Homo sapiens: one gene and its partners. The protein of the gene in region 5 purifies or fractionates together with the protein of the main gene of each other region. This does not show direct contact. Each region holds a gene or a part of one and is shown on either strand. Other genes may lie near its edges.

What was found.
Region 1: the proteins of ANAPC1 (region 5) and CCDC13 purify together in Homo sapiens (co-immunoprecipitation; one study listed by IntAct). This does not show direct contact.
Region 2: the proteins of ANAPC1 (region 5) and TRIM33 purify together in Homo sapiens (affinity purification with western blotting; 2 studies listed by BioGRID, with this or other methods). This does not show direct contact.
Region 3: the proteins of ANAPC1 (region 5) and USP1 purify together in Homo sapiens (affinity purification with western blotting, with the first as the bait; one study listed by BioGRID). This does not show direct contact.
Region 4: the proteins of ANAPC1 (region 5) and NAP1L4 fractionate together in Homo sapiens (co-fractionation; one large-scale study listed by BioGRID). This does not show direct contact.
Region 6: the proteins of ANAPC1 (region 5) and KATNAL2 purify together in Homo sapiens (tandem affinity purification; one large-scale study listed by IntAct). This does not show direct contact.

Annotation. Positions count from the first base shown.
Region 1 is NC_000003.12:42,706,860-42,711,822, forward strand, and holds part of CCDC13 (coiled-coil domain-containing protein 13), read right to left. Parts: intron 2,940-4,963; coding exon 2,825-2,939; intron 2,281-2,824; coding exon 2,121-2,280; 3' UTR 1-2,120. UniProt on the Homo sapiens protein: Required for primary cilia formation and promotes the localization of the ciliopathy protein BBS4 to both centriolar satellites and cilia.
Region 2 is NC_000001.11:114,504,196-114,509,158, forward strand, and holds part of TRIM33 (E3 ubiquitin-protein ligase TRIM33), read right to left. Parts: intron 1-4,963. UniProt on the Homo sapiens protein: Acts as an E3 ubiquitin-protein ligase. Promotes SMAD4 ubiquitination, nuclear exclusion and degradation via the ubiquitin proteasome pathway. According to PubMed:16751102, does not promote a decrease in the level of endogenous SMAD4.
Region 3 is NC_000001.11:62,442,608-62,447,570, forward strand, and holds part of USP1 (ubiquitin carboxyl-terminal hydrolase 1), read left to right. Parts: intron 1-551; coding exon 552-712; intron 713-2,130; coding exon 2,131-2,822; intron 2,823-4,733; coding exon 4,734-4,904; intron 4,905-4,963. UniProt on the Homo sapiens protein: Negative regulator of DNA damage repair which specifically deubiquitinates monoubiquitinated FANCD2. Also involved in PCNA-mediated translesion synthesis (TLS) by deubiquitinating monoubiquitinated PCNA.
Region 4 is NC_000011.10:2,970,948-2,975,910, forward strand, and holds part of NAP1L4 (nucleosome assembly protein 1-like 4), read right to left. Parts: intron 1,297-4,963; coding exon 1,155-1,296; intron 588-1,154; coding exon 501-587; intron 1-500. UniProt on the Homo sapiens protein: Acts as a histone chaperone in nucleosome assembly.
Region 5 is NC_000002.12:111,772,694-111,777,656, forward strand, and holds part of ANAPC1 (anaphase-promoting complex subunit 1), read right to left. Parts: intron 4,365-4,963; coding exon 4,166-4,364; intron 1-4,165. UniProt on the Homo sapiens protein: Component of the anaphase promoting complex/cyclosome (APC/C), a cell cycle-regulated E3 ubiquitin ligase that controls progression through mitosis and the G1 phase of the cell cycle.
Region 6 is NC_000018.10:47,059,787-47,064,749, reverse strand, and holds part of KATNAL2 (katanin p60 ATPase-containing subunit A-like 2), read right to left. Parts: intron 1,779-4,963; coding exon 1,680-1,778; intron 1,467-1,679; coding exon 1,389-1,466; intron 1-1,388.

The DNA of each region.
Region 1 (4,963 bases), on a different chromosome or scaffold from region 5:
AGATGAGAATGTGGAGGATCAGAGAGGTTAAATAACTTGCCCAAGGCCACACAGCTGGTAAGTGGGGAGAGAAGTATGCCCCAGGCAGCCCCACCTGTCCAGACTCCATGACCTAATGCTCCTTCCTTTCTCAGGCATAGCCCAGGAAGGGCAGCAGAACCACCCTGAAGTGGCTGGAGTGTGGGTCACACCATCTCTGCACTTCCCTGAGGTGATCTTGAGGAAGGATGGCTGATCCTATGCCTGCTTCTCACTCCCTGGGACTGCACTGAGGCCAGAGCCTGTACCCCTCATACTCAGATCACCCTCTGGAGCTCCTCAGGGCCTGCAGGAGAAGGTGCTGACTCCTCTGTGTTCAGACTCTACATCCAGCCCACCCCTCGCTGTCACACACTGTCCCCTCCAAGCACAGACCCTCTCTCTCCTGGCTCTCTGCCTGGCCGTTTTCCTTCACAAGGAACCAGAGAAAAACTCTTCCTTCCCAGAGACCCTTAGGACCCCACCAGAATCATCAGTTCATCCCGGTGGCCTTTGCTCTAACTTGCTGTGGGATCTCTAGATCCGTGTGACCCCATGCAGGGTCAGGGGCTCCCTGAGGAGTGGGGGCCAGCTAGGGTCCCTCCATAGCCCCATCCCCAAGGAAGGGGCTGAGAAGACAGGGTCCCAGGAGCCGCAGTGGCTTTTCCAAGGAAGGAGCTGACAAGATGCTCGCAGGAGCCCCAGTGGCTTTTCCTGGGGAAGGGGGTGTTTTCACAGTATGTGCACCTGCATTTGTGCATCACTGCACAAGCAACACACAAGTGGCTATGTCTTCACGTGTGGGAATGTGTGTCCACATCCACATGTGTGTGCTCATCTGCACCTGTGTGTCCATGAGTGTGCACACATGGAGGTGCCTGTGTGCACGTACAGTTGCATGCTCCTGAATTGAGGTATGTGTGTGCATCTGCATCTTTGTGTGGGGCTGTGGGTGCACCTGTGTGGCCAGGGTGTCGGAGTTGGGGTGTGTGGCTATGAGTGACCCTCCTTGGGGCCACTCCTTCCTGTAGCTATAAGTGCATAGTTACAGCTGAGAAAGGGCAACACTGACAGTCATAGAGGCCTGCGGATCTTAGGGTGCCCCTGCAGCATCCCTCCAAGTTCACCATGGCGAGGGAGGTGCACTGTACCTTTGACTGGAGCCACTACCTCAAAACCCTTCTGCCTGAAGCTCCAGCTGAGCCCCACCTCGGCCCTCTGCCACCAGCATCCATCAGCAGTCTTGGTGAGCAAACAAAGATGCCTCTTGGAGCTGCTGCCTAGGGGTGGGGTTGTTCAGTGGTGGGTGGGTGCGCCTACCCTGGGTAATCTCTGAACGGCAAGACCCTGGTTTTGGGGTCAGGCAGACTGCAGTTAAATATTAGCTCAGCTTCTTTCTGTGAACCTCAGTTTCTTCATCTGTCAAATAAGACAACAAACCCCTGGGTCATTAGAGGACTGAATGGGGTCAGGTTGCCACAGTAGATGCTCACTCACTGGGAGCTGCAGTGATTATGAAAATACTTATTATTATTACAAGTCCAAGGGTCTGCACCTGAGGAAGTGTCCTGAGGAGTGGGCTGACAAACTGGTTGAGAGCATAGTGCCCCAAGTCTGTGTAGGGTGTGGACGGCTACAGATGGAGCCGGGATGGGGGTGAGGGGATAGGGCAGGGCTGAGTGGCATGGGGGATATGCCCACTTAGGGTAACCAAGGGCTCTTCTGTGTGTGAAGCCATGGGGACATCCAGGGCTAGTACCTAGGATGAGGGCGATGAACACCTGCCCGAGGGACTGCATCTGTCCATTCACAGCCGCCTTGCCATCCCAGAGCTCTCGCCTCTGCCAGTGGGCTGCTGGGCCTCCCTGCTGCTGTAACCCAGCCAGCCCAGGGTCTCCTGCAGTGTCCCACCAGGGCTTCTCTTCTGCCTTCCTGGCCTGAGACATTGGTTTTGGTCATCCTTAAGGAGCCTCTTCTGGTAGAAGTGGTTGAGCTGGCTGCCCTGGGCTGGCTTCCCGGAGCAGATGGAGTCCTCAGACAGAGTCTTATCCTCTCAAGACCTGAGGCTGCCCACCCGGCCAGGCCGACACTGGGCTGTCATCCTATTGCTTGCCTGTCTTCTGCTGCCGCAGGGCCTGCAGGAAGACACTTTTCACCTGGCCCAGGATCTCATGGTACATCCGGAAGTCCTCCTCCTTTCCCCGCAGGGCACTGCCCAGGGCAGCCTTTAGCATTTCATTCTCCTCCACCTGGATGGCCAGCCTGGACCACAGGAGACAGTGCTCAGTGTGGCTGGAGCTGCACACAGGTGTGCGTGGGTGACAGAGGGCCCTGGGAATGTGGTTGCCAGCATGGCTGCTCTTCAGGCTCAGGCTTCCCTCTGACCCATCCCCTCCTCTCACTGACTCTTGTGGGTACCATGGATTCCTCTCTATGGGCCTGGCTCCCTGCAATGTAAGCTACCTCAAGGCCCCTTACAAATTGAGTTCCAATTTGTAGAGGTTCCCGTCTTTCCCTTCCCATGGCTGCGTGGGGTCTTAAAAGGTTTAACGTAGTGAGAAACTGGTTCAGTGATCCATGCTTGATAAAATTTCTCTTGGACTATGGGTCATTGGGGTTTGGGCCGGGCCCTCTGTCCTCTGAAGGCCAGTCCCTGAATTGCAGGCCTAGAACCCAGGACCAAACAGGACAAGCCTTCTGGGCAAATGAGTCAAAAGTGCAAGGGGAGGGACACAGTCCCTCTGCCCATGGAGGCACCTCTGCTCAGACAACCCTACCCTTTCAGGAAGGCGGGGCAGGGGAGCACCTGGTTGTCAGCTCTTCCATTTGGGATTCCACGGGCACATCGGAGAGCTGGGCAAAGGATGGGTCCTTCTTCTCGCTCCCGGTTGGGTTGTGCCTGTTGTTAGAGGTGGGCAGACCTGTGGGGCAGCAGCAACCACTTTCTGTGAGGAGGCCACAGCCCTGTGCTAGCACCCTGCTTCTCCTCCCGCCATTGCCCACTGCCTGCTCTTCCACATGGTGAAACGCTACACCGCCTTCGGGGTGCAGGGCAACTCTGAGCTCTGCCTCCCTCCGAAGCCCTCCCTGATGCCTCCTCTGCATGCCTCTGCCCCTGGCTTTGGCCTCTGCTACAGCCCTGACTCTGCTCGCTTTGTACCAGGGTGGTTCCTCACCACCCTGTCTCCATCTTTATACTTTACAAGTTTCTGGTAATTTGTTTTCTTTTTTTTTTCTTTTTTTTTTTTTTGAGACAGAGTCTTGCTCTGTCACCCAGACTGGAGTGCAGTAGCGTGATCTCAGCTCACAGCAATCTGCGCCTCCAGGGTTCAAGCGATTCTTGTGCCTCCCGAGTAGCTGGGACAACAGGTGCCTGTCACCATGCCCAGCTAATTATTGTATTTTTTGCAGAGACAGGGTTTTATCATGTTGGCTAGGCCTCCCAAAGTGCCAGGATTACAGGCGTAAACCACCATGCCCAGCCTGGTAATTTGTTTTCAAAAAGAGAAACCAGCTGAGCCTGAGGTCTGGCCTGCAGGCTGAGCCCGAGTCTAGACTGTCACTGTACCTGATGCCCTCATACCAGTGGTCCCCATCCAGGCCATCAGCTTCATACTAGGAAGCAGGGGATCCAGGGTCCTGGAGTTGAAGGGTACAGAATGTTCACAAAAAGGAGACAAAGTGGCCCACGGTGGGGTGGTCCCAGAACTTTGGGAGGCCAAGTGGGGGCAGATTGCTTGAGGTCAGGAGTTCAAGACCAGTCTGGCCAACACGGTGAAACCCTGTCTCTACTAAAAATACATAAAAATTAGCCAGGCATGGAGGCATGCACCTCAAGACTAGTCTTGTGTAAACCTGTCTCATTGCTGGGGAGGCAGCAGAGTGGCTCTGCCCTCTACAGGGGCTGGACTGAGTGTTCTTCAGGGCCTTTCCTGGCTCCAGGGGACACTGCTAAGCTGCCCTTGGCTTATTCCACGCATTGAGCACCTCCACATCCCCAACTAGAGCTGCCCTGGATGGGAAACTGCTTGTTCAGCCTGATGGAATTTTCTAAGCCCTGTGACACAGGGAATCAAAAAGAGCCTCAGCCGGGTGCGGTGGCTCATGCCTATAATCCCAGCACTTTGGGAGGTCTAGGGGGGTGGATAATTTGAGGTCAGGAGTTCAAGACCAGCCCGGCCAACATGGTAAAACACCATCATTACTAAAAATACATAAATTAGCAGGGTGTGGTGGCGAACCCCTGTAATCCTAGCTACTTGGGAGGCTGAGGCAGGGGAATTGCTTGAACCAGGGAGGTGGAGGTTGCAGTGAGCTGAGATCGCACCGCTGCATTCCAGCCTGAGGGACAGAGTGAGACTCTGTCTCCAAAAAAAAAAAAAAAAAAAAGACAAAGCTCAACTGGTGGTGGCGAACTTGGGCAAAATCACAGCATCAGAAAACCTCGGGACTGAAAAGGCCCTCAGAGGTGGTGTGACCCACAGTAAATTACTTGGTATCAGAAGACCTGGCTTTCGCCCTCTGCTGAGAGGCCTCAGGCAAACTATCAGCCTCTCTGAGCTGGTTTCCTTAGCTGAAAAAAAGGATAATAGTTTATGCCTCTAGAGCTTTGGCAGCCTCAGTGAATTCTATTTGGCTCTCAAGGCCCTGTGTGATTGGACCACTCCAGCCTCCCTGCCTCCTCCCTGTTCCTCCAAGCATCCAGCTAAGCTTCCAAGCACCGACACTTGTCTTTCCCTCAGGGATCGGCAGGCCACATCCCCTCCCAGTTCCTCCATCTCTGCTCAGATGTCTAGCTCCCCTACTGGAGTGAGACTGCCATGGGGGACTGAATTATAAATCTAGCCTCCTCATTTTACGGATGGGCCAGGGGGAGGCGGGTAAGTGGTGCTCTGCTCACCAGAGGGGCAGGATTTTGCCCATGTTAAAAGCCAGTAGGCAGCAG
Region 2 (4,963 bases), on a different chromosome or scaffold from region 5:
ACGCCATTGCCAAGGCTGGAGTACAATGGCACAATCATGGCTCACTGCAGCCTCGACACTCCGTGCCTCAGGCAATTCTCCCACTTCAGTCTCCTGAGTAGCTGCGACTACAGACACGCACTACCATGCCTATTTAATTTTTTTGTATTTTTTGTAGACACAGGGTTTCATCATGTTACCTAGACTAGTCCCCTACTCCTGGACTCAAGCAATCCACCCACCTCGGCCTCCCAAATGGAGTCACTCACCATCTTAATTCACGCAGAGGTGATGGCAGTTTTATCCATCATTGCTTTTGCACCATTAATATAAATGTCAGCGCAGTGAATAAGGAGAATATCAAATTAGTGTAATTATGAAAATAGTTTTAAACTTGTGCACCTCTAAAAGGGTCTCAGTGACACGGTCACTACCATCACCCCCACCCCAGCATTCTGTGGCCCACACTTTGAGAATCACTGCTTTAAGGTATTCTCATTTAGGACCCACTGACAGCAGAATCCATGAGAAAAGTAAAAGTAATTAAAGTCCCCTAACTAGGGCTTTTGATGTACAAATACTAGACATTATAAAGACTTAGGATTTAGGACATTAGTTTATAAGTTTTTACAAGATCTAGGTAACTAGAAGATTTGGAACTCAAATGATTTATCATGCATGCTGTACATATCAGTAGACATCAGAAAAGCCTTTAAAACCACAATTTACCCCCCTGCCTCTTCTTTCTGTTTGCTGTGAGATACAGTCACAAAGACAACGGGGGGACAAATGAAAAATTACCGAAATAACACTACTACAATTTATTGGGGGCTTCCCATGTAAGCTCCCAATAAATGTACCTTGCAACACATTAACTCTCTTAATTCTCACAAAAACTCTATGATGTAGGTGTAATTATTACTCCCAATTTACAGATGTTAAGTAACTTATCCATGGTCATTCCAGTAGTAAATGGTAGAGCTCAAAAATGAATTCAGGTAGTTTGACCACAATGCTAGACAGAAGTTGTGAGAAGTATTTCAGCAATCTTGGACACATCGTTAATGACTGGTTGTTGGTGGAGTACCACATGATCATTCAAACACTCAAGCTTGTTTCTGTTGAAGAGGAGAGTCAGAAAAAGTAGAGCCTAAAAAGTCCCCAAACCAGTTAAGTCACACTGAGGCCAGAACTGTCATATAGTATACACACTCCAGGGACAAGAAATTCCGAGGGCTCAAACAGAAGACTCCTCAGAGTGGCTCAGCATGGTCTGTGATAAACAGACAGAAACACTATGAGGAAGTGCTCTTCACACTACACTCAGAGGTTTTCCCTCCCACTTACACATGATTGTTGCCATCTCAGACTTTTCATAGTAAGTTTTTTTGTTTCGTTTTGTTTTGTTTTTGAGACGGATTCTCACTCTGTCCCCCAGGCTGGAGTGCAGTGGCGTGATCTCAGCTCACTGCAACCTCCGCCTCCAAGACTCAAGTGATTCTCCTACCTCGGCCTCCCGAGTAGCTGGGATTACAGGTGCCTGCCACCACGCCTGGCAAATTTTTGTATTTTTTGTAGAGACAGGGTTTCGCCATGTTGGCCAGGCTGATCTCGAACTCCTGACCTCAAGCGATCTGCCCGCCTCGGCCTCCCAAAGTGCTGGGATCACAGGCATGAGCCACTGTGCCCAGTCCACAGTAAGTTGAAGAATTCAGTAACAGAATGATTTTTCCATGGTGATTCCACTATTCCTCCCCACAAACTATAAGGACATTAAACGTATGTACATACAGAATGTTAGCATAAAAGACAATAGAATCATATAACCTAACGGGATAGGAACTCAGCCTCTTCGTATTGCAAGACCTGGAGAGACTTCCTAGGTTCCTTGCCCAAGGGTTACGTAGCTAACTAACAGCAGAACCGAGGCCAGGTGGTGCCTCACGCCTATAATCCCAGCACTTTGGGAGGCCAAGGCAGGTGGATCACATGAGGTCAGGAGTTCGAGACCAGCCTAGCCTACATGACAAGACCCTGTCTCTACTAAAAATACAAAAAATTAGGTGGGCATGGTGGCGGGTGCCTATAATATCAGCTACTGGGGAGGCTGAGGCAGGAGAATCACTTGAACCCAGGAGGTGGAGGTTGCAGTGAGCCGAGATCGCACCATTGCACTCCAGCCTGGGTGACAAGAGTAAAAAACTGTCTCAAAAAAAAAAAAAAAAAAATAGCAGAACCCAATGCAACTTAATACCAATTCATTTCTTCAGCCACATCATTGTGCCATCTCAGAGGTAGCCTCATCTCCTTCAAGAGTTCATCTGAGAGTTTGTTCAGATGCATCAATATGATTCCTATTTAAAAAAAGATTTTTTGAGAGACAGGGTCTTGCTATGTTACTCAGGCTGATCTTGAACTCTTGGCCTCAAGTTATCCTCCCGCCTCAGCCTCCTGAGTAGCAAATCTGTATTTTTATTGATAAAGTATAAATGTATATATACCCACTACTGATAGCTGTTCTGCCTCAACCTGAAAAAGCACCCCCCAAAAAATCACAAAAACACTTTAAAAAGCTCACTATTGAGATTCAATATTAACTAATTTATCTATTTTGATTTTGCAAATACTCCAACGGTAAACAGATTGTACTTTCTCCTCAAAATATTTAAATCTGTGTTCCTCAAAGTGTGGTGGTACCACCAGCATCAAAATCACAGGGCACCTGTTAAAAATGCAGGCACATGGAGTCATCACCAAATCAACTAAACCAGTCTCTGAAGAAACTCCCAAGTTAGCATTTTAATAAGCTCTCTAGTGATTCTTATTTACACAAAACTTATTTATTGAACAGTCTACAATATCCTAGTGCAAAGTGAGACGGGCAAGTAAACAAAAATAAACATTTTGGATTTTAGCTGTGCTACAAAGAAAATAAGATGATCTATCAGAGAGCGACCTGGAGGACTACTTTAAAATGAGAAGTCAAAGTCTGAGGAGACATTTGAAGTGAGAGCCCTTCATTCAAGACAGTGGTTCTCAAACTTAAGCGTGAATCAGAATCACCTGGAGAGCTTGTTAAACGAGACTACTGGACAGGAGGTCCGGAATGCGGCCCAAGAATCTGTATTCCTAACAATGTCACAGATGATGCTGATGCTGTTGATCCAGGAACCACACTCTGAGAACTGTTGATCTAGAAAGAACAGCCAGAGGGTGTGAATAAATGTATTAAGAGAAACAGGAAAAGGCCAGTTAGGCAGGAGGGCATTATACTCATCATTGTTTCAAAATCACTTGAAAAAGATGGTGAGTTAAAACCACTAGCTATGATCTCCAGACCAGAGATGATATCTGAGGTTGATCAATAATATCCTGTATTGTTGAAGCATTTCTCAGTTACAAAGCATTTTCACATTTATTATTTGCCTTGGTGAGATATAAGTAAACGACTATCAGCTACATTTTAAAGGGAAACTGAAGGACAAAAACAGTATGAACTTCCTTTAGCGTAAAATAGCTAAAGAGCTGAACTATGTCCCCTAACACCCAATCTAGTGCTCTTTCCAGCACAGCTTGATCTTTTTAAAGAGCAAAGCAGAATGGTATATAGGAGTTAATACTGACAAATTATTTTCTAGACTATCTAAAAACACGGTGGATGGCTAGACACAGTGGCTCATGCCTGTAATCCCAGGACTTTGGGAGGCTGAGGCAGGCAGATCATTTGAAGCCAGGAGTTCAAGACCAGTCTGACCAGTATGGCAAAACCCCGTCTCTACTAAAAACAGAAAAATTAGCCAGGCGTGGTGATATGCGCCTGCAATCTCAGCTACTTGGGTGGCTGAGGCACAAGAATCGCTTGAACCTGGGAGGCAGAGGCTGCAGTAAGCCGAGATCGAGCCACTGCACTCCAGCCTGAGCAACAGAGCGAGACTGTCTCAAAAAAAAATTTTTTTTAATCAAAAACATGGTGGATTCCAGACTCAATTTGTTTTAGATATTGGTTAGAGAGAAATATTACTTAAGATTGACAGCATTTGGTTAGTCCCTTCCACTTACTCCCCCTCCTTCAAAAAGAAAGGATAAAGAAATGAAGAGGGGATTTACATATTATTCTCTCTCCTTCATAAATTTCAGAGAGCCAATTTCATAACCTCAGTCCCTCAGCCACATCAGTCAAACACAATCTGTATTTCTGGGTTCCCTCTAAATCTCTTACCTAACCCAGGTTCCCACAAGAACACTGAATCCTATGTGTCTTACTATGGTCATGGGTGCACAGACCACCAGCAGTTATTCTCTGAACACCTACTAACAATTAGTAGCTTCTCCAACAACCAAAGCCTTACTCTTAACATTCTTACCTACATGTACCAATAATGCTAGAAACCCAAAACATCCCAATCTGAAAACATTTTATCCTCCCTACACCCCAGCCCTCACCCTCACCCCAGCCCTGCTTCAGTGTCTGAATATGTATTAATAGCATTGCCATCCACCAAACAAAAAATGTGGAATTCTACGTTTGTCTCCCTCACACCAATCTCAATACACTCCCCCCATCCCTCCATTCCCATAGCCACTATTAGTTACTACTATTAATATACTAGCTACCATTTCATTAGTAACTACCACGTACTAATCACTTTACACATTTTATCTTACTTCATTCTCTCAATAACCCTATGAGGTTATATACTTTTTTCCCATTTCACAAATGAGAAAACTGAAGCTAAGAAAAGGTCATCTGCCCAAGTCGTAAGTAGGAGATGGCAAAGTAGATTTCCAAACCCTACCGTTCCCCCAAACCAAAATGCTTCATTCTGTAATACCTGATATATCATTCCTTTACTACCCATTCCAAATGTTGATTTCTTTCCTAGATAACCGCCAGGATTCTCCTAACTGGTCTCCTTGTCTCCAGCCTTGCCTTCCCTCATCCCTCAAGTGCCCTAAGTGATCTTTCTGGATCAGAAATCTGATC
Region 3 (4,963 bases), on a different chromosome or scaffold from region 5:
GTTAAAATTTAAATACAGTGTATTTAAAGAAATCTTTAACTTCCATAATTAAAAAACCATTGTAATTCACATAAATAGTAATTCATAATTCCTCTTAAAATTACAAAAAAGACCAGACGTGGTGGCTCATGCCTGTAATCCCAGCAGTTTGGGAGGTCAAGGTGGGTGGTGGATTGCTTGAGCGCAAGAGTTTGAGACCAGCCTGGGTAACATGGCAAGACCCTGTCTTTACTAAAAATACAAAAACTAGTAGGGCGTCATGGTGTGAGCCTGTAGTTCCAGCTAATTGGGAGGCTGAGGTGGAGGATTGCTTGAGCCCAGGAGGTTGAGGCTCCAGTGAGCCGCGATCAAGCCACTGCACTCCAGCCTGGGCGACAGAGACCCTGTCTCAAAATAAAAAAATAAAAAATAAGGCTTATTTGTACATCCCTTAAAATTAGTGCTATTATGCAACTTAGAAAATCTAGTATTCTTAAGTGAGACAAAGACAAAGGGGGAAGGTACTTAATTTGTTCATAAAATTATTGGTTTGTGTGTTTCTTTCTTGACAGGGAAATTGCAAAGAAGATTCTTTGGCAAGTTATGAATTGATATGCAGTTTACAGTCCTTAATCATTTCGGTTGAACAGCTCCAGGCTAGTTTTCTCTTAAATCCAGAGAAATATACTGATGAACTTGCCACTCAGCCAAGGCGACTGCTTAACACACTGAGGTATAGCCTATAATATAATTTTAGGGTTTCAATTTAGCTACTTGTTTATATCCTTGGAGGAGAATGACATGCGAAGAAACAGGAATAAAGGGCAAGGAAAGTAGAAACTCTAGGTCCACAGTCCTTTATATCCCAGAGACTCTGAATACTGGAAATTTTTTTCATAAATTTGGTGCTAAATTCGTTAGATCTGAACATATTATATGAGGCTTTTTATAGTCATTCATATTTATCTCTAACGTGAATATTCATACATGCTTCTATAGAAGTAGTAATGTGTTTAGTTATAGAGTACTCCCATATCAAGTCGGTGATAAATATTTTACTTATATGCCATATAATCATTGAATCTGAAAATGTCTGAATTTCTAAATGCGTGGTCCTAAGGATTTCACATTAAGAATTATAGGACTATATTCAAAATATGTGTAAGAACTGTAAATTCCAAATATTCTATTTTTATATGTGATTAGAGGAGAACTGTTGGCTAACTGGATTAGATTGCTTTTTGGTATTTTCTTAAAAATGAAACTTTACATATAAAATAGCCTTATTCAAATACAATTATAGGGCAAGTCTTTAAAACAATCACTTAAGCATTTAGTTTAAAAATAGAACTAGGTGCAATATATTGCTATACCTTAGTTAAGAGGTATTGTAGGCCGGTCACAGCTCACACTTGTAATCCCAGCACTTTGGGAGGTGAAGGTAGGTGGGTCATTTGAGGTCAGGAGTTCAAGACCAGTGTGGCCAACATGGTGAAACCCTGCCCCTACTAAAAATACAAAAATTAGCTGGGTGTGGTGGTTTGCACCTGTAGTCCCACCTACTCGGGAGACTGAGGCAGGAGAATCGCTTGAACCCGGGAGGCGGCGGTTGCAGTGAGCCAAGATTGCGCCATTGCAGTCCAGTCTGGGCAACAGATCAAGACCCTTGTCTCCAAAAAAAAAAAAAAAAAAAAGGCCATTGTAGCGTGGTGGCCAAGAGCGGGTTTGAATACTGGCTTTTCATCCTAAGTAGTTCTGTGACCTTGGGCAAGTTATTTAACCTGTCTGTGCCTTAGTGCTTGTATCTGTCAGTAATGGTGATAATAGTACCTCATAGGGTTATTGTGAAGATAATGTATACATAGGAGATAAAAAACATTTTGACTAAAACCTGGTGTATGGTAAGCATTATCTAAGTATTAGTTATTAATATATTTAGAAGAGGATCAAAGTATTATAATGAAAATAGGGTACAATTTACTCTTACTTTTAGTTACAGATAAGAAATTCCAAATTAGTGCTGAATAAATGTCTTGACATTTAAAAAATGAAATAATTTATGATTTTCCTTACATGAATTAATTTCTATATAGGCTTTATGTACTGTATCTTCAAAACTAGAATAGATGAAATGGAAATTTTTATTTATAGGGAACTCAACCCTATGTATGAAGGATATCTACAGCATGATGCACAGGAAGTATTACAATGTATTTTGGGAAACATTCAAGAAACATGCCAACTCCTAAAAAAAGAAGAAGTAAAAAATGTGGCAGAATTACCTACTAAGGTAGAAGAAATACCTCATCCGAAAGAGGAAATGAATGGTATTAACAGCATAGAGATGGACAGTATGAGGCATTCTGAAGACTTTAAAGAGAAACTCCCAAAAGGAAATGGGAAAAGAAAAAGTGACACTGAATTTGGTAACATGAAGAAAAAAGTTAAATTATCCAAGGAACACCAGTCATTGGAAGAGAACCAGAGACAAACTAGATCAAAAAGAAAAGCTACAAGTGATACATTAGAGAGTCCTCCTAAAATAATTCCCAAGTATATTTCTGAAAATGAGAGTCCAAGACCCTCACAAAAGAAATCAAGAGTTAAAATAAATTGGTTAAAGTCTGCAACTAAGCAACCCAGCATTCTTTCTAAATTTTGTAGTCTGGGAAAAATAACAACAAACCAAGGAGTCAAAGGACAATCTAAAGAAAATGAATGTGATCCTGAAGAGGACTTGGGGAAGTGTGAAAGTGATAACACAACTAATGGTTGTGGACTTGAATCTCCAGGAAATACTGTTACACCTGTAAATGTTAATGAAGTTAAACCCATAAACAAAGGTTAGTATAATTCTTAGACTTTGATAGGTAGAAGCATTAGCAGCTACAGAATTAGAATTTTCTCTTCCTAGATACATGTACAATATAATCTCTGGCTAAAATTGTTTCAAGAGAAGGAAATTTAACACTGAATGTGAACTATGGTGTTTTAAGTGCTATGCTTAGATTAGTGTGTGTGTATATATTGTATGCATATATATGTGTGTGTGTGTGTGTGTAATGTCATTAAAGTAATTTTAATTTATAGCTTATAAAGTAGGGAAGTTCGGCCAGGTATGTTAGCTCGCACCTGCAATCCCAGTACTTTGGGAGGCCTAGGCGGGCAGATCACCTGCGGTCAGGAGTTCAAGAGCAGCCTGGTCAACATGGTGAAACCCCGTCTCTACTAAAAATGCAAAAATTAGCCAGGCATGGTGGCGCACGCCTGTAGTCCCAGCTACTTGAGAGGCTGAGGCAGGAGAATCGCCTGAACCCGGGAGGTGGAGGTTGCAGTGAGCCAATATTATGCCACTGCACTCCAGCCTGGGGCGACAGAGCAAGACTCCGTCTCAAAAAAAAACAAATAATAATAAAGTAGGGAAGTTCAGTATATTTTAATGTACATTTAAGAGTACATTTCCCTTTATGCAGTGTTTGACATAAACTGATGAAGGACATTGCATTTAGTGAAATTTTAAAAGTAAAGACTAAGTACAGTCATGTGTTGCTTAACAACAGGGATATGTTCTGAGAAATGTGCTGTTTCATTGTGTGAATTTCACGGTGTACTTACACAACTAGATGCTAGAGCGTACTACACAACTAGCCTATATGGTATAGACCAGGGTATCTAATCTTTTGGCTTCCTTGGGCCACACTGGAAGAAGTGTCTTGGGCCACACCACACAGAATACACTAATGATAGCTGATGAGCCAAAAAAAAAAAAATCAAAAAAGTCTCATAATGTTTTAAGAAAGTTTATGAATTTGTTACGGGCTACAGGCAAGCTTTGCATGGCCTATTGCTCCTAGGCAACAAACCTGTATAGCATATAACTACTGAATACTGTAGGCAACTGTAGCACAATGGTATTTGTGTATCTAAGACGTATCTAAGCATAGATATGTAAACATAGGTACAGTAAAAATAATCATAGACTACTGTCATATGCGGTCCATTGTTAAATAATTGAAACGTTGGTAGGTGGTGCATAACTGTAAGTTACACGATACTTGAACTAGATTTTTACCTAGTTTTGTCCAGATCTACAGATATCAGGGAAAATGTGTAATATTGATATAGTGAATAGTTTTACCAAAAATGTCATCCTTATTCTGGGTTTATTCTATGGGGAGGTGTCTGTAGGAAGGGAGTTACAATACAACTGACTTTTTTTTATTTTTTATTTTTTTTATTTTTTTGGAGACAGAGTTTTGCTCTTGTTGCCCAGGCTAGAGTGCAATGGCATGATCTTGGCTCACTGCAACCTCCACCTCCCGGGTTCAAGCGATCCTCCTGCCTCAGCCTCCCGAGTAGCTGTGATTACAGGCATGCACCACCACACCCGGCTAATTTTGTATTTTTACTGGAGACAGGGTTTCTCCATGTTGGTCAGGCTGGTCTTGAACTCCGACCTCAGGTGATCTGCCCGCCTCAGCCTCCCAAAGTCTTGGGATTACAGGCTTAAGCCACTGTGCCCGGCCTACAACTGACTTCTTTTAAAGACAGTAATTTCATAGTCAGTTTTATCTTTACAGGGACCTTAAATTTCATTAATAGGGTACCTCTAATAAGCTAATAATGCTAATAAGCTGATCTATGAAAATGGAACTGTTATTCATGATATACTTTATTTAAATGGAAAATTGGTTATTTGGACTATAATGAGAAACTAATCTGTATAGACTTACATTTTCCTATTTTCATTTTAGGTGAAGAACAAATTGGTTTTGAGCTAGTGGAGAAATTATTTCAAGGTCAGCTGGTATTAAGGACGCGTTGCTTGGAATGTGAAAGTTTAACAGAAAGAAGAGAAGATTTTCAAGACATCAGTGTGCCAGTACAAGAAGATGAGCTTTCCAAAGTAGAGGAGAGTTCTGAAAGTAAGCAAAATTGGAGTCTTGTGTGGACCATGATGGAATATTTATAATTCTTTAACAAC
Region 4 (4,963 bases), on a different chromosome or scaffold from region 5:
ACTGGGAGTTTTCACAGCACTGGAATGGGACCAGTCACTAGAAAAAGGCTGTGAGCAGGTGACTGATGGCCACACCACAACCACCATCTGCAACCAATCCACTGGCGGAGCACCTCTCAGGGGGCAAGCTAGTCCATGCCACTGAGCAGGAAGGCACTCCCCTCACAACTCCCCCAATCTTCCAGTGACTGAGAACACAGGGGCATCTCTTCTTCATCTTTGCTTTCTCTGATGTTTTAATCTTTGTTGGTCTGATCCCTTATTTCAATATGCTCCTGTCCACAGATAACTGAGGTGGCACTACATCTTACTCCTATTAACTGACAGTACTGTGTCAGATGCTAGATCCATATCAGAAAGGAATCTAAACCCAACCTAATGATGCAGCAGCACCTACTGTTAGAAGCACATAAGTTTACTAGTCATTAAAAATCATTAAAAAATGCTTATTTTTAACAGTATTAAAACAGAACATGAGTCACATGTTTCTAAAGACTTACAGCCAATTTCTCTTCCTCTTCATTTTCACTGTGCCATTCCGATTCCGCATCTGTTGGTTCAACATCGCCGGTGATAAATTCTCTTCTCTACATAAAAATGAGACCTTATTAGAATTATGTTATTAGCTTACTTAGGAACTCAAGAGTTAAATTTATAAATAATGTCTACTAAAAGACTTTGAAAACTGGATATTTTTATAACTTATTTTAAGATTCTAAATTTTAGGGTTCAAAGAAAAATATTAAATGATTCCCTGGGTAAACCTGGATGTTTCACCTAAAGATGTAAAATAAAGACAGTCCCCGATTTCCAATGGTTCAGCTAAAGATTTTCAACTTCCTGATGGTGCAGAAGCCATCACACTTTGGGCACCAATACAGCCACACTGTGTTCCTCTCTCTGTGTAGGGTTCAATACATTACGCGAGATACTCAGCACTTTATTATAAAATAGGCTTTGTGGAAGATGATTTTGCCTGACTGCAGGCTAATGTTAGCGTTCTGAGCTTGTTTAAGGTAGTCTAGACTAAGCTATGTTTGGCAGGTTAGATGCGTTCTTACCCTAGATGTTGTCAACTTATAATGGGTTTATCGGAACCTAACACCTTCGTAAGCTGAAAACTATCTGTATATTAAATTAACAGAGCTCCCTACCTTGTCAAAGAGAGGCTGGTATAGCGCTGCATACTTTCTTTCCAAGTCATGTACCTCTTCATAGAACTTGGCTTCTATGTGAGCACATCTCACCTGAAGTTGTTTCAATGCATTAATTCTTCTTTTTACTGCTTTAGGTAAACTAAAAAAGGGAGTAAGAAATACAACATCCTCATGCCTGCAAAATAAAGCAGCATGCTTTTCAATTTTATTAAAATAAATTTAGGTTAACATGGAATCAACATCCTTACTATGAACAAGACCTCTTAAAAATTAAGAAAAGGACAATACCCCAACAGGAAAAAAAGGATACAGGAGGAAGCAGAAAAAATAATTCACAAAAGAAAAAACACAAATTGTCAAACATGAAGAAAGATTCAATTTCATAAAATATCCAAAAGAATGCAAACATTTAAGAACACTCAGCTTTTCCTTACCAAATTGGCAATTAAAAACCAAAACAAAACACCCAGGTTTTACGAGGCTAAGGGCCAAGAAGCCCTCTAACTGACTCATCTTTCTGAAGGGCAGAAATATTGAAAATGTTCTTTGGACCCAGTAATTCTATTTCTAAGAATTTATCCTTAAGGCTGGGCGCAGTGGCTCATGCCTGTAATCCCACCACTCTGGGAGGCCAAGGTAGGATTGCTTGAGGGCAGGACTCCAAGACCAGCCTGAGCAATACAGCAAGACCTCTCTCTACAAAAAAATTTTAAAAAATTAGCAAGGCATGATGGTGTGCGCCTGTAGTCCCAGCTACTCAGGAGGCTGAGGTGGGAGGATCACTTGAGTCTGTGAGGTCAAGGCAGCAGGGAGCTATGATTGCGCTACTGCACTCCAGCCTGGGAAACAGAGCAAGACCCTATCTTACCAAAAGGAAAAAAAAAAATTTATCCTAATCAAGTATTTATGCTGGAGTGTCCGTCGATAGATCTGTACAAGTGAAAAACTGGACAATGCAAGTGCAACAGCATTCAAATATGGCCTATTCATAATCACACTGTCCAGGAATATTTAGTGCCACGTGGGAATCCACACTTGTTAACACACTGGAGGAAAAAATCTGAGAAACACAGACCACAGGCAACACAACTTTGTCCTGGAGAGTCAGGTCAACTATGAGTTTGCCTTTCAATTCTGTTCTATGTTTTAAAAAATAGTTGTTATGTATAACTTTTATAAATCAGAAGAAAAATCCTTGTTTAACCCATCAAAACTATTTGTTCAAAACGAAGCCCCTGGTCACAATCATGTGGACTGAACAGCAGATTCCTGGCCTCATCATAGACCCAAATAATCTACCTGGGGCAGGGCCCTGGGTCCTGCATCTTGAATACTCATTCACACAATCAGAGTCTTCAAGTCTAAGCACTTGACTTACCCTCCAACAACAGACAGCACAGAGCAGTAGGCAAGTCACACACACATATCACTGGTCTGGGAGGTATTAGAACAACTGCCTTGCATCCCAAAGGACCACTCTCCTGGGTGAAATACAACCACAGCTACCTCAAGCTAAAGGTCCTTAGTTTAAGCAAAGACTCTCAAATAATGCTTAACATTCTAGAACTACTGCTAGTAGTAGATGAAAAAAAGGGAAAAGCAGAAAGAATTTAACAAAATGGTAGACTCCCACTGCCATTTTTACCCCTTTTCTGCACTGGTCATTCATTCATTCATTTATTGTGACAGGATCTCACTCTGTTGCCCAGGCTGCAGTGCACTGGTGCGATCTCGGCTCACTGTAGCCTCAACTTTCTGGGCTCAAATGATACTCCCACCTCAGCATCCTGAATAGTTGGACTACAGGGGCACATCACCATGCCCAGCTAATTTTTTTGCATCCTGTAGAGTAGGGGTTTGACCATGTTGCCCAGGCTGGTCTCGAACTCCTGAGCTCAAGCAATCTGCCTGCCTCGGCCTCCCAAAGTGCTAGGATTACAGGTGTGAGCTACCATGCCTGGCTAATTATACAATTTTAAATTAGTTTAATTTTTGAAGCTTTCCAACTGAAGTAAAATGACAAAGGATTTTTTTTTTTAATTATACTTTAAGTTTTAGGGTACAAATGCACAACGTGCAGGTTTGTTACATACGTATGCATGTGCCATGTTGGTGTGCTGCACCCATTAACTCGTCATTTAGACAAAGGATGTTAAACAAACTGGACCCTAGTGTGCCCCCAACAGTCCTTCAATCATTCACACCAACTACACCCAGCCCTCTGCCGGCACTTTTCCTGCAATATGGCTAATATGGAACCACTTCTAGTCCCACATAAACCTGATCCCACTCAAGCAGTTCCTCTCACAGAATGCCACCCCACCAACCCAGTTTCTAAAGCGAGAAAACTAGAAACCATTACTCATTCTCATTCTTGCCACTCCCACTCAGTATCACCCCATCCCATCAATCTAGTCTGCAAAAAAAATAACATCAAAACACCTTGCCCACTAAGTAATCTCTGAGAAGCTTCTAAATGGGCAAAGCAAACTCTGAATGTCACCTTCTAGGCCAGGCGCAGTGGCTCATGCCTATAATCCCAGCACTTTGGGAGGCCAAGGTGGGCAGATCACCTGAGGTCAGGAGCTGGAGATCAGCCTGGCCAACATGGCAAATCCCTGTCTCTACTAAAAATACAAAAACAAAACAAAACAAAACAAACAAAAAAACACGTGCAGCAAATCACCATGGCACATGTATACCTATGTAACAAACCTGAACACTCAGCACATCTACTCCAGAACGTACAGTGAAATAAATAAAACTACAAAAAACTAGCTGGGAGTGGTGGCGTGCACCTGCAATTCCAGCTACTCAGGAGGCTGAGGCAGGAGAATCACTTGAACCCGGGAGGCGGAAGTTGCACTCCAGCCTGGATGACAGAGCAAGAGTCTGTCTCAAAAAATAAAAATAAAAAATAAATGTCCCCTTCTTGTCGTAATAGCCCTGGCAGTCCTGACTGGGGAAACCAGCTGGAAGGTGGGGCCTCCTGGGAGACCAAGCCCTGACCCAATTATAGATGGAAGCCCAGTAACAGCTCATCCCTTTAAAAAAAAAAAAAAAAATTGCCATGCATGGTGGTGCATGCCTATAGTTCCAACTACTCTGGAGGCTGAGGTAGAAGGATTACTTGAGCTCAGGAGTTCAAGGTTACAATGAACTATTACATGCCACTGCACTCCAGCCTGAACAACAGTGAGACTCCAACTCAAAAACCAAAAATTCCTTCCAGAAGTAAGAGAGGTCCTGACAAGAGCCATCCTAGGATTCTAGGATCACCACCCTTATCATTTTCATAGTGCAATACATCTAGCACATAGGCCTCTCTTAAGAAAGCAAAGGTGTCAGCCAGGCACGGTAGCTCACCCGTTATCCCAGCATTTTGAGAGGCTGAGGCGGGAGAACCAATTGAGGCCATGAGTTCAAAACCAGCCTAGGAAATACAGTGAGACCCCATCTTTTTTTTTTTCTTAAAGACAGTCTCACTGTCACCCAGGCTGGAGGGTAGTGAAAACTCATAGGCATGCGGCACTATGCCCAGTTTTTTTTTTTTAAGGTGTTGGTGTCACAGGCTCATGTGGGTAAGTCAGGAAGGAGTGGTTCTCTTAGTTTAACTTAGGAGCCACCAGCTGTCCTCTCCAACTCAGATGATCTGTGAAGTCCTCTAGCCCTCCACAGGATGGCACTGTGCACTTCCTATCAGAACTGACAGGTCACGCTACTCCATCCACCAGGCAAACTCTCAGCCTAGGCACCGGGTAGGGTCACTCCTCTCATATCCCAGTGCCTGTCTCTCATAGACAATG
Region 5 (4,963 bases):
GACACAAACAAATGCATAATTACAAATTGTGAGGAGTGCTATAAAGGTGCAGTGGTCACTGTGGTTGTCTCCCCGAAATACCCCTTGTCACACCCTACCCTCCACCATATATTATATTTGATGGGACTGACTTCAGCTCCAGAACTAGATCCTTACTAGTCTTGGCCAGGGGTCCTCAAACTTTAACATGTGCCAGAATCACCTGGAAGGCTTGTTAAACCACAGATGAGTGGGCCCCACTCCATGCACAGAGCACAGAGATTCTTATTCAGTAGGTCTGGGGTGGGGCCAGAAAAACTCCATTTCTAACAAGTGCCCAGGTCATGCTGCTCCATAAACCACACTTTGAGAATCACTGATCTTGGGTGATCAAGGCAATCCCATTCTCCTGATGCAGTGTTAGTTCAGAGACAGGCAGACCCAGGCCATTTTTTCAATAAGAGACATTCTCTGCCACAGGGATAGATTGAGAGGTGTGCATGAGATGCAACTCGAGCCAGAAACCTGAGGAGGTACTTAATGACAAGCTTGCTGGAGGCTCCAGGGAAAGAAATTCCCTCATTCTCATCACAAAACTCCTAGAAGCAACTCTATTCTTCCTCTGAGTATCATGCTGAGCTAGAGGTGAACATGTTACAGCCATTTGATTACCATCCGAAAAATGCACTGAGGATAAAGTCATGGCACAGAATGTAGCTGATGGAACCTCAGAGAAATGGAGTTGAAGACACTGGAAAAAGATGACCCTTTACGTGCCTTACCTGCAGACCTCTAATAACATAGGCATACTTGTGTCCTTACTGTTTAAAGGCAGGTTAAGTCAGGCCTTCTTTTACTTGCAAACAAAGGCATTTTGATACAGAAAAAAGGTAGAGAGCATGAGCGGGCAGGCTAAAGATGTCAGGAAAGCTGCCTGAGGGAGAGTGGTCTTGGAAGGCCTGGGAGGAAATGCCATTAAAACTGAGGCTGCATGGATAAATATGAGTTGGGCAGGTGAAGAATGAGAGGAAAAGGTTCTAGGGAGGGAAAACAGCATATTCAATGGCCCCACAGTGAAAAGGAGCTCAGTGTTTTTGAGTAAGTGGAAGGGGCCAGGGTGGTGTGGGGAGCAAGTGGTGTAAAAGAGGCTTTGTTGAGGAAAACAGGCGCCTTGCAGGTCACACAGGTCCTGGTGCCACACAGTAGGGATTTCTTTCACAGCTGAATCAGGAGCCATTGAAAAGCTTTAAGCAGGAGTGTTACATCAGTTTATTCTTTAAAAGACTGTTCTGTCAGTTAAATTGAGATGGTTGGAATGGAGATGAGAAAAAGCAAGGAGGCTATTTAGGAGGCTATAACAGTGGTCCAGGCACAAAATCATCATTCTGTTCTAGGTAGAAATAGTAAAATGTGGACAAATTCAAGAAATATCTATGATGAGGATTGAAAGGCATCAGCAATGGGTCAGCTATTGCAGAGAAGGGAAGGAGGGAAAGGAGCAAGGATGACTTCCAAAAGGGTCAACAAAGGAGTGACAGTGAAATGGTGACAAATACTGAGAATTTTTAAAGAGGATTTTTTTTAAAAATTGGGAAAGTGTGCTATGACAAAGTCAAGGGAGGCTCATTTCAAGAAGGAAAATGTAGCTAAAAGCCTCACCATTGTAGAGATGGAGTGAGATGAAAACTGTAGACTCCACTGAACACAGTTGTGAGGATGTCAGTCTACTGGGAGGTGGAAACATTTAGGTTTGGGGGAGGCAGCAGAGGGAGAAAGGTTAAGGGAGAACAGATGAGATTCTTCTTTGAACAGCTCATCATGAAGGAGAGCATGGTGGTTCAGCCTCTCTTCAATGACTTTCTCATGTCTACCAGCATTTTGTTTCACTGATTTTCTCTATTGCTTATCTGTTTTTGGTTTCATTGGTTTCTGCTTTTATTTGCTTGCTTTGGGTTTACTTTGCTTTCCTACTGCACTTGACAAGTCTTAAAAAAAAAAAAAAAAAAAAAGGACAATGCCAAAAATTGCATTGCAATCCACTGCTGGTGGGAAAGTAAAATGGCACAATTTGGAAAATTGAGTGTGGCAATGGGTGAAGGTACAAATGACGCAAAAATAGGAGAATGCTGGCAACTATTAAAATTGGTGTTGTGGTTTATTACACTAGTCTACTTACTTTGTATATTCTTTAAATTTCCATAACAAAATATGAAAAAGTTAATAAAACTTTTTAAAGTTCTTAAACTTGAAACCCGCTTTCTTTGCCCAAAATTATAATTTGAGGAGATAAATACTGTACAAAACATTTATATAGGCCAGGCGCCATGGCTCATGCCTGTAATCCCAGCACTTTGGGAGGCCAAGGCACGTAGATCATGAGGTCAGGAGTTCGAGATCAGACTGAACAACATGGTGAAACCCCGTCTCTACTAAAAGTACAAAAATTAGCTGGGTGTGGTGGCGTGCACCTGTAATCCCAGCTACTCAGGAGGCTGAGGCAGGACACTCGCTTGAACCCAGGAGGTGGAGGTTGCAGTGAGCTGAGATCGCGCCACTGCACTCCACCCTGGCGACAGAGCGAGACTCTGTCTCAAAGAAAGAAAAAACAAAACCGACATTTATATAATATAAATTGGCTGCATTTTCAGATTAGTGTAGTGATTTAATGGGTTATCTCAGATCTAATGAGTTGTCAGTGAGTGATCCTGAAAGTCCACATATGCATCTGTGATTTTTACACACAAATATGAATGCAATTTCCAATTTTCAGTTAATTTATTGTTCTCTACCCCAAAGCCAACTGCTAGTGCTTGTAAGAGAGGAGACTATATATTTAAGAGGTTTTGTTTTAAAAAAAATTCTAGTTTTTCACTAAAAAATAAACACATTTTTGATAAATCTGTGTGGCAAGTCAAATTCAATGGAGGCTGACAGCAATGCTGGAAACCACCAAATGCGCTAAAGAGCAACAAGGCAATCAGGGCCCTGTTTTAGAGAATGTTCTAATCACTGCCAAAGTTCCATACATTATATGAAATGTGCAAATCAGGGAATCTGCAAAGATTTAAGGAAGTATTTATTATCAATAGCAAAGGTCTGCCATAGGTGATCAAATGTTAAATTGAATAAAAACGAAACACGAAAACCTTTGAAATAACATGTTTTTCCCCAAAAATGAGGATAAAAATGACTATCCAAAAAATTATGAAGCTATATGATCTTTGAATCTGAACAGGAAATGACAAATACAATGCAGCTTTTAAATATAAACATGGAGAGTCTGAAATCAGGCTTTCCAAGTATATCCCTCACAACTTGGTTTACAATTTAATTTTTTTCAGAAATTTATTTCCTAGTGTTACAGGTGGATAGTTTTAAACTCAATTATATTCAAACGCTTAGGGTCTATTGATTACTAATAGTTTTCACTAATCAAAGCAAGAATTGTTTCTACTACTATTACTAAGGTTAGTATTAACCCAAAGCAAGCAACTGTCAGATATTTACTGGGAGCATTTGAATGAACTAAAAAGAATGAAAAGATCAAGGAGTCTACTCCTGAAAATCAGTTTCAGGTGTATTTAACACACAGATACATTTCCATAAATCTAAAGGCCCCATCGCTTGCCTCATGTAAGTCAGAATCACTTCTACACTGTTAACGAGTAACTACAATTTCCTTGCAATCACAAATCCTGCTGATAGAAAGCCACCACTGTGACATCACATAGCTGTGCGGTCCCAGGTTTTCAAAACTGAGTTGGTACAACAAGCTCACTCAGCAAGCACACGTCAACTTCTACATGTACATGTGGTGCCAGTACAAAAACAGGATGGCTGCTGGCCTCAGGAAGGCAACAGGCCACACCCCTAGGAAACAGGAGACAGAGGCACTGGAAAGGAAATGTGACCTGATGCTAGGGAAGAGAGAACAAGGTCCTGAGCACCAAGTGGTATTTAAAATGCTATAAATATTATCTGCCTGGGTCAGATGTATTTTACTAAAGAAGCTAAAGTAGATAATCAAAGTCTAATTCATCTAGCTGGAAACGTTAAATCTATAGCCATTCTTGCTTATACTCAGATTTATCTTGCTTACCAATGAAAAAACAAAGTTACAACAGAAAAGCCTGAACCGAATGTATCTCAAAAGCACAAGAGCGCTATGCTACAATGCTACTATTACCTTGTAGCCACTGGTCCAGGGTATTATCAATGGTGCACTTCACAACAGGGAGGAATTCCGAGTTCATAAAGAGCCCCCGCTTAGGGTGGTTCTGCAGCCGCTCCTGATGGCTTCGGGAGCTGAAAAACTCTAACACCAACTTTATCTGCCAAAGTTCAGAAGTCTCAGACATTTCTCTTCTCCCAAGTCTTCTTATAGCCTTGAAGAGGAAAGAGGACAACAATCTATTTAATCAAAGAGTGCTCTGTCTCTTCATCAGAGTTGTAGACTGAGTATTTTTTAAATGTGGCTCCGAATTATAAAGGGTCGGGGGGTGGTCCATTCTGTGTTTTGATGCAGTCTGCCCACAGAGGAGCCGTCACTGGGTACAGGTGCATGGCTCACCTCCTTCAATATGGCCCTACATGAGCAGCTTGCAGGGAAAAGTAACAAAGGTGAATGAGCTCATTCTTGGCTCAACAGCTCCGAATAACCAAGACCCAAAAGGTCATAGCCAGTCACCTCTGGGAAACTCGAGCTGGGTACAATGACATGGCAGAGATCCCAGGGGGTAGAGGGCAAGAAGAACACTACTAATAATACTGCCCTTGAGATCCATCTGCAAGTCACTACAGCTGCAACCAGAGAAGATATTCATGCATAAAGACCTGCCACCCATGACTGTAAAGGTGTGAGGGTTCAGAGAGTAAAAAGACACATTCTCAGCCAGCAACATTCTCATCCAGCAAATAACACAACTTGTTATTTGGCTGCTATACAAAGAGGCACTGTGAGAAGCAGTGCCAGCGTGGATACCAT
Region 6 (4,963 bases), on a different chromosome or scaffold from region 5:
CAGATGGAATCATCTCAGGCCATTTCCACTCTATAGTTCTATCCTCATAGTCATGTTACCCTTTTGCAAAAATGGTAATGAGACTATTAATTTGGGGTTACTGCAGCCTGGCTCAGTCCCTCATCCCCTCTCACTGGTAAAAACCTTATAGATGGTCTCCCCATCTCCTTTTCTTTGCTATTCATTCATCTCACTGTCATAGAACAAGCCATCCACAAGCACATGGGATGATCCCATCCTCCGACGGGCGCCTTTCTAAGGTCCCCTCTTCTATAGGTGTGTTCTCAGCCCTGGGTACTGCTCACAGCACCCTTCCTCAGGAACCCTGCCTCTCTCCACCCGTTCCCCACCACTCCCTGCTTCTTAGGTGGCCCACAGGACATGTGCACAAACTGCAATTTCTCATGGAAGTGCCTATGCCCAGAACAGCTCCTAGCCTCCCTCTTCCACTTTTTCCCTTAGCGATTTCCTGTCTTCTTTCCTAACACTTTCCCCACCCCTCCCTCCTTCATGCTCTTAAAGTGCACTTTGTCCCTGGGATGAGAAACTCTTGAGGGCAAGGACTATGCTCTGACTCGTTCACATTTGTGTCTCCAGCCCACAGCACACACCTGACACACAAGAGGCATACAGGAAACAACTGCTGAGCTGAACAGAGACAGCTCAGGAGCCCTTAGCTTCTCAGAGGAGCTGTGAATTTTGGGGATCATTTTAAACCCCCCTCTGAGCCTGCCTAGGTTTCAGTCTTCAATTAAATATGAAGCAATAGAAATTAGAAAAATACCCTATAACTCAGGAATCTATTTTATTTCCCAGGAACTTGCCCAAAGTCACACAGCTAGCAAGAGAAGGATCTAGAAATCAAAGGCAGGTCAGCTAATTCCAAAGCCTGTTCTTCACTGCCTTCTGGTTCCACAGTGCAAGCTGGAAAAGTCCGTAGTCTGGATGGTAGTCTTTCCTGCTAATTGTGTTTTTCATGGAGATTTTCAATGATGATATCATCAGACTCCCGACGTCTCTATTTCTAGGCTCTGACTTTTTAAACCAGATGCAGACATACTCTTTTCTTCTTTAAGAGGCTTTCTTTCCTTGACTCTTGGCTCTGCTATAAAACCTTTCACCTGTCCCTTCATTCCTAAGTCTTTTTCTCTCTTGGTTTTCTTGGCCTCTATCATGAGATGGTGGGGTTTGTATATTGTAATTTTATGACTCTATAATTTATTTATCATGCATTATTGTGCCTCTAAACAATATGAGTGCCTGCGCAAGTGGGGGCACTTTATAAATAAATGATCATATTTATTGTTATTAATAAAAGAAGCAGCCCACAAAGCTCCAGAAGCCCCAGCCTGCCTCCATAAATTTGTGAATTGAATATCAGATCTTACCCGGCTCACCACGGCTGCCAATTCTCGCATCTCACTGTTCATGCCAATAAATGCACTCAGAGGTTTCAGCAGTCGTTCCTGATGAGAGGAGCGGAAAGGCTCACATTACAATATTGCTTCATAATTTAGGAAGAAACCCCGGGCATGCACAGGTCTTGGTGAAACAAACGATGGCAGGTGGCTATGGCCTTTAACTTGATCTCAAGGTTTCACTGTACTCAAAATTATATTTCCAGAGTTCATCTGGATGTTGGCAATTTGAAAGATGAATGTCACATCTTCGCCACTTACTGAGGGGTCTGGATTATGGTCGAAGGTGTTCAAGGCAAGTTCACTGGTTGCTCCCTTGATGGCATCTGTGAGCAGCCCTTGGAAGTCAATGATTTGGCCCTGAAAGGGAGGAATGGTTATTTATGCCATGAGAACATAAGAGAAGACTCTTCTTAATAACTCAGTTTCATTAAACCAAGACACATTTATAGACCCTGGTATATAGGGCAAACTTCAAGTTAAGCTTTAAAAAGAACCAGCACTAGTATTAAACGTGATGATTTCCTCAAGTTGGAGCACCTTAAAAAATTGTAAGTACATTTTCCAGAATGAAGTGGATTTGAATAAAAATTCATGAGTATTTCTCAGTTCCTGACACAGACCATCTGCTTCCTCCCTTATATGTTGACTTCCCCTGTATGGTCTTATCCTCTTAAAATATTACACATGCAGAAAGAACTCATTGGCACAATGGTAATGAGAGTTCCTGTCTATGGATTGTGATACACGTTCACCACTCAATAGAGTGCTGGGTACAAAATAAGTGTGAAAGGTTCTTTGTGAGAACTATTTCTTTTTTGTTATTTTTGTATATAATTTGTATAAATTTATTGGGTATAAGTGTAATTAATTTAATTTCCACCAACAATGTATGAGTTCCCTTTTCTCCATATCCTGTGAGGATTATTTCTAATCCTTTTTTTTTTTTCCTTTAAGAGACAGGCAGGATCTCACTCTGTTATGCAGTGGCGTAATCATAGCTCACCGCAGCCTTAAACTTCTGGGCTCAAGGGATCCTCCCACTTCAGCCTCCCAAAGAGCTGGGACTACATATGTGCGCCACTACTTTTGGCTAATTAAAAAAATTTTTTTTGCAGAAGTGGGGTCTCTTTATGTTGCCCAGGCTGGTCTCCCAACTCCTGAGCTCGAGTTATACTCCCACCTTAGCCTCCCAAAGGGCTGGGATTACAGGTGCGAACCAGCATACCCAGCCTACTTCTAATTCTTATAACACTTCTGTTAGTCAGGAGTGACATCCTGGCTTCATAGATGTGGGAGTAAGTCCAGAGAGGTTAAGTAATTTGCCCAGGGCCACACAGCTAATAAATGGCTTAAGGCCAGGATTTAAACCCACTTAATCTCTCTCCCAACCCATGATCCTTCCAATATCACCCTGTCCCCCCTAGAGGTAGGAAGGAAAAAGCAAGGATGCACCAAAAAAAAAAATAATAATAATAGTTAACATTTATGGAGTGTTTACTATGTGCTAGCACTGCACCAAGGCTCTCCTTTCATCATGAGACTTAAAGGGGACGCTATGATTATTTCCACTTTACAGATGAGAGAAATGAGGCTTGGAGAAATTATAAAACAACTTAACCAACTTGCCCAAAGTTACATAGTGGGGGAGCATCTGAGCCAGGTTTTGAATCTAGACAGGCTGACTCTGAAGCCTATGCCCTCAAGAACAACATACCTACTAAATTTGCAGGGAGGGTGTCCTAAAGCTTGGATTCTGATGTAGTAAGGATGTGTGCCCCCTCCAAATCTCATATTGAAATGTGATCCCCAGTGTTGGAGGTGGGCCTGGTGGGAGGTGTTTGGGTCATTGGGGAGGAACTCTCATGAAAGGCTTGGTGCTCTCACCACTGTAATGAGTGAGTTCTCACTCTATTAGTTCACGAGGGACCTGGTTGTTTATAAGAGCAGGTCATCTCCCTCCCTTCTTGTTCCCTCTCTTGCCATGTGACATGCCAGGTCCCCTTGCCTTCCGCCATGAGTAAAAGCTTCCTGAGGCCTCACCAGAAGCTGAGCAGATCCCAGTGCCATATAGAACTATGAGTCAAATAAATCTCTTTTCTTTATAAACTACTCAGCCTCAGGTATTCCTTTATAGCAATGCAAAACAGACAAACACAGGTACTAACATAGAAATGACAGACCTGGGGTTTTCTGAGATTGGCCCCAGGCCATATACCCTCATACAACCTATGGACATATGAAATGCTAGGGAGAAAGCCATCTACATTGTGCCTTTGAGGACATTTCTGCTGGTAAGAGGATTTATAGTCAGACTATTTCAAAGGTTAAGTGCTGGGTTAAATGGTCCCTTCCTTGTGACCCAATCAAAAACATCCATTCATTTCAATGTGAGGCATTCACAAGAGAAACTTATGCCACAAAAAAGCTAGGCAAAGGTGACTGAAAACACAATAGAAGCAGTGAAGGTGAACAAGGAGACATTTTTCCAAGGGAGGTGTTGATTCCCATGGCATCATCTTCAGCAATTACCATGTAAGTGAGGCCCTTAAAGGGAGTCAGTTCAGGCCAGTGAGGTCACTGCTCTTGATTTTCAGGGATATGCTCCAGTCACCCCTCCAAATTCACACACACAGAGTTCAGTTTTTCTAAGAGCTGGCCAGAACTAAGTCAGCACTCCAGAGGTTTGAGCACTTGGCTGAAGAAAGAAGAAGCTTAAAGAACTACAACCTTGGAGAGTATGACCAAGAGCAATATGGTGCAATTCATTTCCAAATTACATGTTTTAATCTACCTTTTGACTACATCCACCCAATCTGGGTCTTTTCTGCTTAAGACATTATTATTTAGAAATCTAGACATGAGATTCATTATGAAAAAGGTAAAAATATCTATCAAGGACAAAATCAACCCTGTATCAACTGATGTTTCATGGTCCACATGAAATTACATTTAGACCAGGAGCCATCCCTCCAAGGAGAAAGGTGACACCACTAATCAAATGCCACTGACAGGACAGAGCAGAATGAGTATGCGTTTCCAACTCACTAAATAACGCAGATGTCCTAGCGCTTTGGGAAGCCCAGACAGGAGGATTGCTTGAGGCTAGAAGTTTGAAACCAGCCTGGGCAACATAGTGAGACCCCATCTCTAGAAAAATGAAAAAAATTAGCTGGATGTTGTGGTGCATGCCTGTAGTCCTAGCTACTTGGGAAGCTGAGGCAAGAGGATTCTTTGAGCCCAGGAGTTTGAGGCTGCAGTGAGCCATGATTGCACCATTATACTCCAGCCTGGGTGACAGAGCAAGACCCTGTCTCTTAAAAAAAAAAAAAAATGATGAGAACGATGCAGGATGATCATGCCAATGTTTGTCATTGTTATTACAGAATTTTTAAGCTGATGGGAACACTAGAGACAATCTCTTCCAAGCCCCTCAATTTACAAATGTGGAAACTGAGTTCCTTAGAGATGGGGCAGTTCATGCCAGCCCATTCATTCAGAAAGGAGATTCCAAAGAAGAACCCATTTTCTGACGCTCTTCTCCA